Linked DNA regions of Homo sapiens: region 2 is linked to region 1. The links come from fine-mapping of genetic effects on gene expression. A gene starts in region 1. The other region holds a variant in brackets. All regions are shown on one strand. Distances are between the middles of the regions.

The links. PIP is the estimated chance that this variant, and not a neighbour inherited with it, causes the effect.
Region 2: its variant is the best candidate, but not a certain one, in a credible set for the expression of MS4A14 in whole blood (TOPMed, PIP 0.66).

Annotation. Positions count from the first base shown.
Region 1 is chr11:60,393,953-60,399,340 of GRCh38, forward strand. MS4A14 (membrane spanning 4-domains A14) reads left to right here and starts at 2,507. Exons shown (of 5, transcript NM_032597.5): 1 at 2,507-2,764; 2 at 3,900-4,028. The coding sequence starts at 2,627. It overlaps MS4A7 (membrane spanning 4-domains A7), which reads left to right. Exons shown (of 7, transcript NM_021201.5): 7 at 1-1,996.
Region 2 is chr11:60,452,095-60,457,482 of GRCh38, forward strand. MS4A1 (membrane spanning 4-domains A1) reads left to right here and starts at 3,753. Exons shown (of 8, transcript NM_152866.3): 1 at 3,753-3,851. The variant G/A (reference allele first, on the strand shown) is at 2,211.

The DNA.
Region 1 (5,388 bases):
TGTGAAACAAACTAAAAAAAAAAAAGCTTTTGTTTTGTATTTGTTTACTATGAGTCGTTATTTAATTTCTCTTGAAAATAATTTCCTCAAAGCCCAAGTCAATAAATGTTATCAGCCAGTCTTCCAAAATGGTCATAAACTTTATAAACTGCTTTGGGTAAACTGAGCAGAAGGTGATACACAGAAGGGAAAATGTGCACTCATGCTAGTGTGAATTTGGTAAGTTGCGTGACTCTGCAGGCTGTTTCTGTATTATTTTCACACTCATATTGCTTAAATATTACATATTAGGGATTGTAAGAAAACTTTAATTAAAAATTAAAGACTATATATAATTAAACTACTCTGCCCTGGACACTCTCTGAGAAACAGATCTACTGGGCCCTTTTTCATGAGCCATTAGGTGGAAGACAGCAAAGAGATCTTCTCAAGTGCTTAGGATTACCTCTCAACACACAGCAAGCATGTCCCTGCCTCCCATGAATCTTACCATGTAAATCCAAATCTCTGCAATCCTGTGGCACCAACCAGTGGTGCTCATTCTATTGTTTAAAAATGGCCTTCTTGGCTGGGCGCGGTGGCTCACTCCTGTAATCCCAGCACTTTGGTAGGCCGAGGTGGACGGATCACCCGAGGTCAGGAGTTTGAGACCAGCCTGGCCAACAAGGTGAAACCCTGTCTCTACTAAAAATACAAAAAATTAGCCAGGCATGGTGGTGCGCACCTGTAGTTCCAGCTACTTGGGAGGCTGAGGCAGAAGAATCACTTGAACCCGGGAAGGGGAGGTTGCAGTGAGCGGAGACTGCACCACTGCATTCCAGCCCGGCCTACAAGAACAAAACTCCATCTCAAAATAAATAAAAAAATAAATAAAAATAAAAATAGACTATATATAGTCTTTGAATTCATTTATTTTAAATAAATGAATAAAATAAAATAAAAAAGAATATTCAGTCGTTGGCACATAAACTATGTTCTCTTCTGTCATTTCAGGGTAGGAGTCAATGAAGACATCTTAGTCTTAACAAGTTACAGATAATCTCTGACTGGCATGTTTTCTGCTTCTAGCTTGGAGCTAAATGCTGCTCATGCTGAAAAGAATAATGTCTATTTCTTTGTTTGGGTATTAGCTCTATTTTGATCTATAGCACAGTTTTGTAATTCAGATCATCACCCCTGCACTTTGTACCACATGGGCGTATTCTTTCTTCCCAGTCATTGCTGCAATTATCTTGTCTGTTCTTTGTGTAATATGTTCTGTGTGAGCCTCTGCATTAAACTCGATTTCTTGGGCAATTATGGAAATTCCAGTGTGGCTGCAGTTTAACTTTGCACTCTCTATGCATATGAGGTTTCCTAAATAAATGAGGAGTAGCATAGTTTAAAATATATATATCTTATAACTTTCTACAACAAAGAATTATTGAGTCCAAATGTCATCAGTGCTCATTTTGAGATACCCTGCTATCGATGGTCGCTACAAACCAGGAAATACTCAAGTTATTATGTGTATACATTGGTTTTAGTTTTATGAAACAATTTACCTTCATGATCTCATAGTTAAAATTGTAATAAATTTAGGAATATAAAGGATCAATATGGGAAGCAAAATTTCTAAAGGCAGTTTCTGTTGTTTTAATTAGTATTTGTGTAGTTCAAACCAGGAAGGATTTGACTATCATTAGATTTTGCTTAACTTTATGAAAGCTAAAATATTCTCTGTTATAAAGGGGCAACTCCATCTGGTCCTATAGCATCTTTACTACTGATTTTTTTTTGTTTAATTTGAAAATGCAAAGAATTGTTAAATGTTCTTAAATGTTCTCACTACAAAAAAAGAAAAAAGATAACTACGTGAGGTGATGGATATGTTAATTAGCTGGATTGTGGTAATCATTTTGGAATGTATATGTATATCAAAACATGTAGTACACCCTAAATATATATAATTTTTATTTGTCAAATATACCTCAATAAAGATGGAAAAAAATCGAAATTCAAAGTTATCTACTGATTTTTATAATACAGAGAAATATGGTTAAACAGTAAGTTAGAAAATTCATCAAGTAAAAGAAACTCCTTTCAAAGGAGGGCAGAAGCGTGGCTGAGTTTAAAAAACATAGATTTTGGAGACAGGTCAAGTTGAGTTTGCCCCTTCCCTGTCCTGTATGTCTTTGGGTGACATAACCTTGCTGTTCCTCAGTTTCAGTATTGTAGAACTGTTAAAAGAATAAATGTTAGTGCATGTCAACACCTTCTACACAGTTCCCAGAACATAAGGAATATTCCATAAGTTTTAGTTCCTTTATAACTCATGAACATATGTGTAAGGACTTGTTTCGTATATACCATCTATTCTTTGTTTACCATATGTTTGTAAGCAAATTGACAAGAGAGTAAGTCTTCTGGATACAGTACTTTTCACCAGGAAGATGGGGGGCTGAGCATGCTCTAGAATTCTAAAACTCTGTGACTCAACTATGATTCTGAGATTCTACTACTGAGTAGAGTCATCACTAAGGGCTCATCTCTGAGGGCTCCATGTGACTCTGGTGGAGAGGTAGATCATGATTTGGGCGGCAATGTTTGCTCACTCTTTCCCTTACTAGAGTTCTGCCATAGAATCATGGAGTCAACATCCCAGGACAGAAGGGCAACTCACGTCATCACTATAAAACCAAACGAAACTGTATTGACTGCATTTCCCTACAGACCTCATAGCTCTCTGCTGGATTTTCTGAAGGGAGAGCCAAGAGTCTTGGGGGTAAGTCCTCTCCAGTCAATAGGTCTTCCAGAAGGGGAGAAAAGAAGTTTATTTATTCATGTATGTCTGCAGAGATATGCAGAGATTATTTTCAGGGAGGGAGTTAATTCTACTTTTCCCCCTTCACCTTACATGAGAAATTAGTACTGATCTTTGAATCCCAGCAGAGGGGGAAGCAAGAAACTAGTATAACTTTTTAAAATATCTCATTGAGGAAGTGACTTCAGGGTGTGGTGGCACCTCCCTTGAAGCTAAGAAACCATAAGTGGAGAGGTTTGACTTCCCCTTCATGCTCTTAAAGGAATTGGGAGTGCTTCAAAACCCATATTCAAAGCTCCACAGTGAACCAAATGATAAGGCATGCAAAACGTTTTTCATCACAAATGCACCCAGGGGAGAGCTGTATGCACAGCCTCCATCCTTTGTACAACAGCAAAAATCATTACTTGGTGTGCCACAGCCCAGAGATGTGGCCTGGGGACAAAATCTAGACTGCCAGAGAAGTTGCGCCCTGAGAACCACTGCTGCTATTCTTTTCCCTGCAGATTCCTACAAGCTGATAGGCCCACTGGGCTATTCTCATCCCTAGTTGGGTCCATGGATGAAGGGGAGGTGAAATGCAAGCTCATCCCAGGTTCTCCACTCTATGTCATCAAACTTTTTAAATTTTTAGACAACTGGGATGAGCCCCAATTCCAAAAGCCTATACTGAGTGCTGGAAAATGTGGGGGTGGGGGCTGTTAGGATAATAATAGGATACTGGTGAGACAGACGAAAAAACAAATGTAAAGGTGAATAGTTTATAGTCCCTGTGCTCAAGAAGCTTATAATCTGGGGGTAGTCAGACATGTACTCAAATCTGTCTGATATAAGATTAATTGGTAACACCAGGGAAGATAGAAAATAATAAAGAATAAAAGTGAAGGATTTGAACCTGAAGGATCCAGGCAAGCAAAGTGGGAAGGAAACACATTGAACTGAGTCTCTTAACAATCTGAGAATGATTGACAAATGAGAGAGGAAGGCATTTGGATGGAGGGAAAGGTGTGCCATGGAGGCACACCCTGAGGGACGTGGGGTAGCCCACAGGGTCTTGGATACTTGTAACCTCATGTACCCATTTCTCTCCTCACAGGCTACCCAGATCCTGCTTGCTCTAATCATTGTGGGCTTTGGAACTATATTTGCACTTAATTACATCGGTTTCTCCCAAAGACTTCCCCTTGTTGTCCTCACAGGATATCCATTCTGGGGAGCACTTATTGTGAGTACTGTCGATTAGAAGCTTTGGAGAAATTGCTATAAAGATAGATTTGAACTGCTTCACGTCCTAGGGTAATGAATTCCATAAATATGGCCCTCCAGGAGACCAAAAAAGGCAGCTCCCTTCACGGCAAAAGAAGCAACTCCATTTGGTCACTGCACTACCATCATCATTGTAATAACTACTCTCAGGTGCTTAAAATTTGTTTCCAAAGCCCTTGTGTGTATAGTAAGACATTTGCTCCTCAATACCAACCTGGGAGACTAGATGCACAAATATCCTACTTATTCCTTTGCAAATAAGGAAACTGAGCTCAAAAGTAGAGAATAACTTAAACATATCTAGCCTAGCTAGCACTCATGGAATCACAGACTCTGAAAGCTTAAAAAGAATTTTAAAATTATTATCACTCATCCTCCTTCTTAGCCCCAGAGACAACTTTATGAGTGGCACTCATCTAGATAATCATATAGCCATAAATATTATTCTTAATACAGTGCTATTTCTATCCAATCCCCACAGCCTGGATTCCTAATTTTGTGCCATAATATTTAAGGACAGACTCATTAGAGCTTCTCCTACTATAACATACACTCCTGAGAAGACAGCAGTGTTACTGTCTGTTTTAGTTGTTATATTCTGAGAACCTAGAATCATGCTTGAGGCATAGTGTGCATGAACGAACGAATGAATCAATCAATCAATCAATCAACAAATAGGTGAAATAATTAATAAATTAGGCCACTATCTCTGACTATTAAAAATCCACAGTCTCTTTTGATAAACAGAAATACTCCATGCCTTTTCTATAATGTGCATTTCAGAAACAACCAGCAGTGTTTTCATTTTCCCAATATAAATAATGTAATATTCAATATGATTTTCAAACTATACATGCCATACTGTAGAAAATCAAACAGACCAACCCCTCACTTTCTCATTTCACAACAGAATTGTCCCAGTGTGACTTTGTGTACTCTGCATGTGTGAATTAAAATGAGATTCTGGCATGCTGCTTTTGAAAACTCTACTTTTCACTTAAAAGATATTTACTGAGCACATACCGCGTCTTCAATGGCATCCTAGGTGCTGAGACTGAGAATACTGGAAAACAGCTCCTCTCTGAGAGAAGTGGTGAATTGTTCTTAGATTTAGACAGTTTGTCATCTAACTGGGAGACTAGACATGAAAAAGTCAAAAGTAACCCCAAATATTTGTTCCTACACTTGTGCTAAGTGCTCTAAGAGGAGAGTTCCAGGTGCGATGTGAGGGTTTAATAGAGGACTCACCTGACCATGGAGGTCAGGCAAGTGCTTTCTGCGTAGCTGCTCACTAGGCGAAGTGGAAGGAAAGCATCCCT
Region 2 (5,388 bases), 58 kb after region 1:
CCCCAACGCTGTGCTCTCTGAAACATGTGCTCTGTCCACTCAGGGTTCAATGGATTAAGGGCGGTGCAAGGTGTGCTTTGTTAAACAGATGCTTGAAGGCAGCATGCTCGTTAAGAGTCATCACCACTCCCTAATCTCAAGTACCCAGGGACACAAACACTGCGGAAGGCCGCGGGGTCCTCTGCCTAGGAAAACCAGAGACCTTTGTTCACTTGTTTATCTGCTGACCTTCCCTCCACTATTGTCCTATGACCCTGCCAAATCCCCCTCTGTGAGAAACACCCAAGAATTATCAATAAAAAATAAATAAATTAAAAAAAAAAAGAAAACACAAAAACTAAGCAATATGTCCGTGTGAAATGTAAGCATATGTGGAAAGTCAAAATACAATGAAAAGGAAGAGAGTGATAAACACCAAATTCAGCATAATTGTGAGCTCTGATAAAGAGGGTGGCTTGGGGAAGGATAACCTGAGAGCTTTCAAAGGTATCAGTGACACTCTTGTATCTCTAATCATGGCTGTGGGCACATGGTTTCTTGTCTCACTGTTATAAGTACTTTTTCATACATATTATTTAATTTTTTGAGAAATATAATTGAGAAAGCAAAACAACATCTTATTTTCATTAAATTTTTTATCACATAATGATATTTTTATAGTCAACACCTGCAGAAAAATGTTACCGTTACATATCAGTAACACTTCATCTCCAATGATAGCATATTTATTGGTACATAAGAGAAAAAACTCTTTTCAATAACTATGAGGTCATAATTGCATTTTTTTCTTCAGCTATATTCCCACGTCACAAAAGCAAAGGGAGTGATCCAGTAATCTGCACATGGGAGTACATCAGACATTTTTATATCTTAAAACGAATAATAATAAATGTTTTGCCATTTAAAGCTGTGTCACTTGAACAAATTAATCTTTGCGGGCTTAAAATTTTTAGACTAGAATGCAATAATAGTAATACCTACCTAATGGGTTTACTGTGAACCTTAAATGAAACATGGAAAGTGAGTTTATCAGTGCCTGGAACTTAAAAATCACTTAGTAAATGCTAGTTTTTGAAATTTATAATTGAGATTTTCTTGCTCTAAACATCACTTATTTTACCATTTACCAGCTTTCCAACTTGGGAATGGCTTCCTCCATTTCCTGAAATTTAGTTTCCACAATTATAAAACAGAATCAATATTATATGTGTGGTAAGGCTTATATGTGGACAATTCTTGACATAAAAGGAATTATTTAACTAATATTACCTTCCTAGCTGTTCCAAATGTATAGTCCCTTAGAAGAGAAAGAAGACCCTATCAACTATAAAGTTCTTAAGTATTTCAATTTACATTTTCCTTACTATGAATTATTTATAAGTGCAACAATGGGATTTTCTGACCTGTAACCAAGTTCTATTTGCAATTAGATCTTTAGCCTCACCTCTGACGAGCCCTATGTCTCCCTTACCAATTCTTTGACACCAGAACCCTCCAACAGCAGATAATTCTGGGTGCCAGGGCCTTGCTGAGAAGTTGAGAACGTGGCATAATGTTACTTCCTAATATTGGAGAGCCTGGGGACAATCACCTGGGTGAAAGAAAAAGCCAAACAGAACCATTCCTTCTCAGCACTGCCAGGGACACAGCAATCACAAAAACTGACCCTGCCTTCAAGGGACAAGGAGACAATGGCTGATTAAGGCAAGGACACAAATAATTATGATGTAGCACACAGTTTTCATATAGAAGGCAATGATTAAAAAAATTGGAGTGCTGGGACGTGCAGAGAATAAAAAGGAAATTCACATCAGGAAAATACTAACTAAATAAAAGTTGGCATACTTTTATGTAGACTTTAAGATTGTCTTTTGGAAGCAAGGTCACTAGATAATGAAAATAGGCTTAATTCAAAGAGAAATATTTTAAATATGTTATCAACCTAATAAAATATTCTCAAACCTTGGGGGAAGAGTGATGGTGATACATCAAATAAGATGCTATTGACAAGTCCAAATTGTAGTGAGAATTTCAACACACTCAAGCACTAAAATGTTGATCATTCAAATGAGCAAAGACAAGGTAAATGTTTATGCATTCATACAAATTCAAATTCAAGTTTATTTGGGAAGAATCATACATAGAGCCACCTAAGTTATCTCATTGGCCACAAAGTAGCAAACAACCTGAGACTGACTGGGGAAATACAG[G/A]GCTCAAACAGAGAAAAGGATGCAAAAGACCAGGTTGTGCTGCCACAACTCAAGCCCCTTTGCTGCCATACATTTGCCAAGTCCTGACCCTGTTCCCATGCCAACTAAAATGAAGGCACATGCCTCTAACCACCCCACCATCCAGGACTCAAACCTCAGGTTTCACAATCATCCACAACTCAGACCCTAGGTAATTGTCCTCCCATCACCAATCACTCAAGCATTTCAGCAGATATGCATAGACCCTCAATTAGAATGTTAAATGGATGATGGATCTTCTGTTCCCACTCTCCTTCACTCTACAGCATCTCTGAGAGGTGACTGCATGACTTTACTTGAGTATTCTTGAAGAAGTAAATTCTCTATTGAAATGGTAGCCAGTTCCCCTAATGAACGGCTCCAACAATTTTTTTTTTTAGAGTGGCATCTTTTTAAATATCACACCACAATCAGCCTCCCCAGAACTACTTCTACCCAGTGGATCTAACCCTATGGTTCCAAACTATCTTAAATTTAAAAAGAGAGGCAGAAAGAGAAAGAGAGAAGAGATGAAAGAGAGAGACAGGAATGAACCTCGAATTAGGCAACAGAGCTGCCTGCCATATTTCATCCCTTTAGATTAAATAAACAAATAATTACCTAACTATAGCTCTGTGTCTCTAATAAAATGAAGCAATGAACAGGGAAATAAAAATGTAATTAAAAATCCCACATATGAACATAAAAGTTGAATATTGTAGGGGGAGAGAGAGGACATTATCTTTGGGCAAAACTTTGATTCACATCCCAAATATTTAGACTCTCCTGACACTACCAACTTCTTCCATTTCCCTACTTGATCTAGTACTGTGCTTGATGACCCTGCAGCTCCAGACTAGACTAAAAAGAGAGGGGACACAAGGGAACTTGACAGACAGAAGAAAAAGGTGGGTTCAGAGGTAAAAGTGCTATTTCAATTTATATTTCCAAATATGGAGGCTAATTCTTGCTTTGAGTGGCTGGGTACATGTACTATGGCACTAAAGTATAATTTTAGGCCATTTCTGCTAAATCTGACACAAGATATATACATGGTTCATAAGAAACTTAAGTGTGAGCCAATGAGGACAATATTTGGGGACCCCTAAGTATAGTGCTGCCAAGTGTACAGCCTCAGTGATTCTTGAATCTCTGCATGGATGCCTCCTGCCCACCTACTCAGCCCTAAAAGTGAAGCCAGAAGGTAAAAGTCAGTGCTAACGGCCCATCTTTGACCAACTTCTAGAATCTTTCTTGTCCTCAGGGACCTACCATCCACACCTGCTTATAGGGTGGGGGCTGCAGAAGTTCTTCTAATTAAGGTAGCATGAGCATGCCAGGCAGTCCCCTGGGGTCTTTTTCAAGAAGTGAAACCTGGTAAGGCAGAAACTTTTTTTGCACCTCCTTCAGCTATGGTAAGTGTTAAACCAAAGTAATTGGAGCGAAGCCCAAGGTAGCAGAAGCTACTGATTTCCTGTCACCTGATGTCTATCAGCGATTTCATCTTCAGGCCTGGACTACACCACTCACCCTCCCAGTGTGCTTGAGAAACAAACTGCACCCACTGAACTCCGCAGCTAGCATCCAAATCAGCCCTTGAGATTTGAGGCCTTGGAGACTCAGGTAAGGAATCAATTTGCTTTCTTTAAATGACTTAAAGGAGGTGATGGATAAGGTATAGAATGGTTTTGAAGACTGGAGGTTCTTGATCTTAATTCTAGAGTTTCCCTAGTCAGACTTCCTAATAGTTCTATGACTTAAGGAGGGGTGACGATATCAAGGCTTGCTGCCCACTCACTCCTCTAATCAGTCTCCCTCTCAACAATTACCCTATGCAGTCAACTGTGAATCATTCCACAAAAGTAGTAGATTGCAGCATATATATTAAATCATGGTTTCTAAACCATTGGGTTCAAACTGGAGCTCTACCACTAACAAACAATATAACCTTGGGCAAATTACTAAACCTCTAAAGCCTCAGCTTCCTCATCTATAAAATGGGGGCAATGGTACCCATTACATTAGGAAAATTGGAACTAAAATCCTGAATCCCTTAGGACTTCCCAATACCAAATGAGAAAATAATCAGTCATAGGCATAATGAAAAAAACTCCATTTGTCTTCCTGTAAATGCTTTTGTCTACATTAAATGTAAATATACCTAGAAGTATAGGTGGCTTTACAGGCTAACATTTTCTGGAGGGGATTTGTGGACACCAAGTTGAGCATGAAATCCTGCCTCAAATCTATCACATGGGAAACCAAGAGTAAGAGGGGGCGCTGCAGATGTGGGGGAGCTCTAATGAAGGAAAACAAGGATTAATTTTAATCATGCCATTACTGTTTTCTGAATCCAGTATATAAGTGATTCCCTTTCCCTGTTTCCCATAAAATGGCTTAATCTCACTGAGAATCCGGTGGAAAGAAATGTTTAATCCAGCATTGTGAGCATTTTTGTGTGTGTGTTTTGTTTGTTTGTTCATTTTTTAGTGGAGACAAGGTTTCTCCATGTTGGCCAGGCTGGTCTCGAGCTCCCGACCTCAGGGGATCCACCTGCCTCGGCTTCCCAAAGTGCTGGGATTACAGGTGTGAGCCACTGCACCTGGCCATTGTGAGCACTTGTTAAGCTTCCCTGAGGAAGTAGCTGAGTTTGATGTTCAGCTTAATGTAACTGAGCTCATAGTACATAGAAAACAGGTTCCCTATGCAAGTCTAGTAGGATACAGGATTCTCCGAAGAAAGTAGTTGATGTCTAGTAAGGAAAGCAAAGAGCTAGGAGCTCTGAAGAATTCCTTGCAATCAGGCAAGGAGAGCAGGAACGCCCTCAGGTGATGTGCATATCTAATGCAGAGTTTGATTGAAAGTAAAGAGGGAGGGAGAAGGAACACTTCAAAGTTGAGAAGATTCAGGAAAGAAGGTAGAGGACATGTATAGACCAGTGGCTCTGGTGGCGGTAGTGGGATATGAGCTTGGGAAGTCATACAGGGCTGAATTCCAAAGGCCTTGAGGGGTTAGATGAAGGGTTTCTCCAGCAGGTAATGACAGGCCAGCAAAGGAGTTCAGGCTCAGGAAGAGCATCACTCAAAACAGTGATCGGGAGCTTGATGTAGCAGCCTTGTGGACAATGGATTAGAAAAGAGAAAGACTGAAGGCAGAAAAG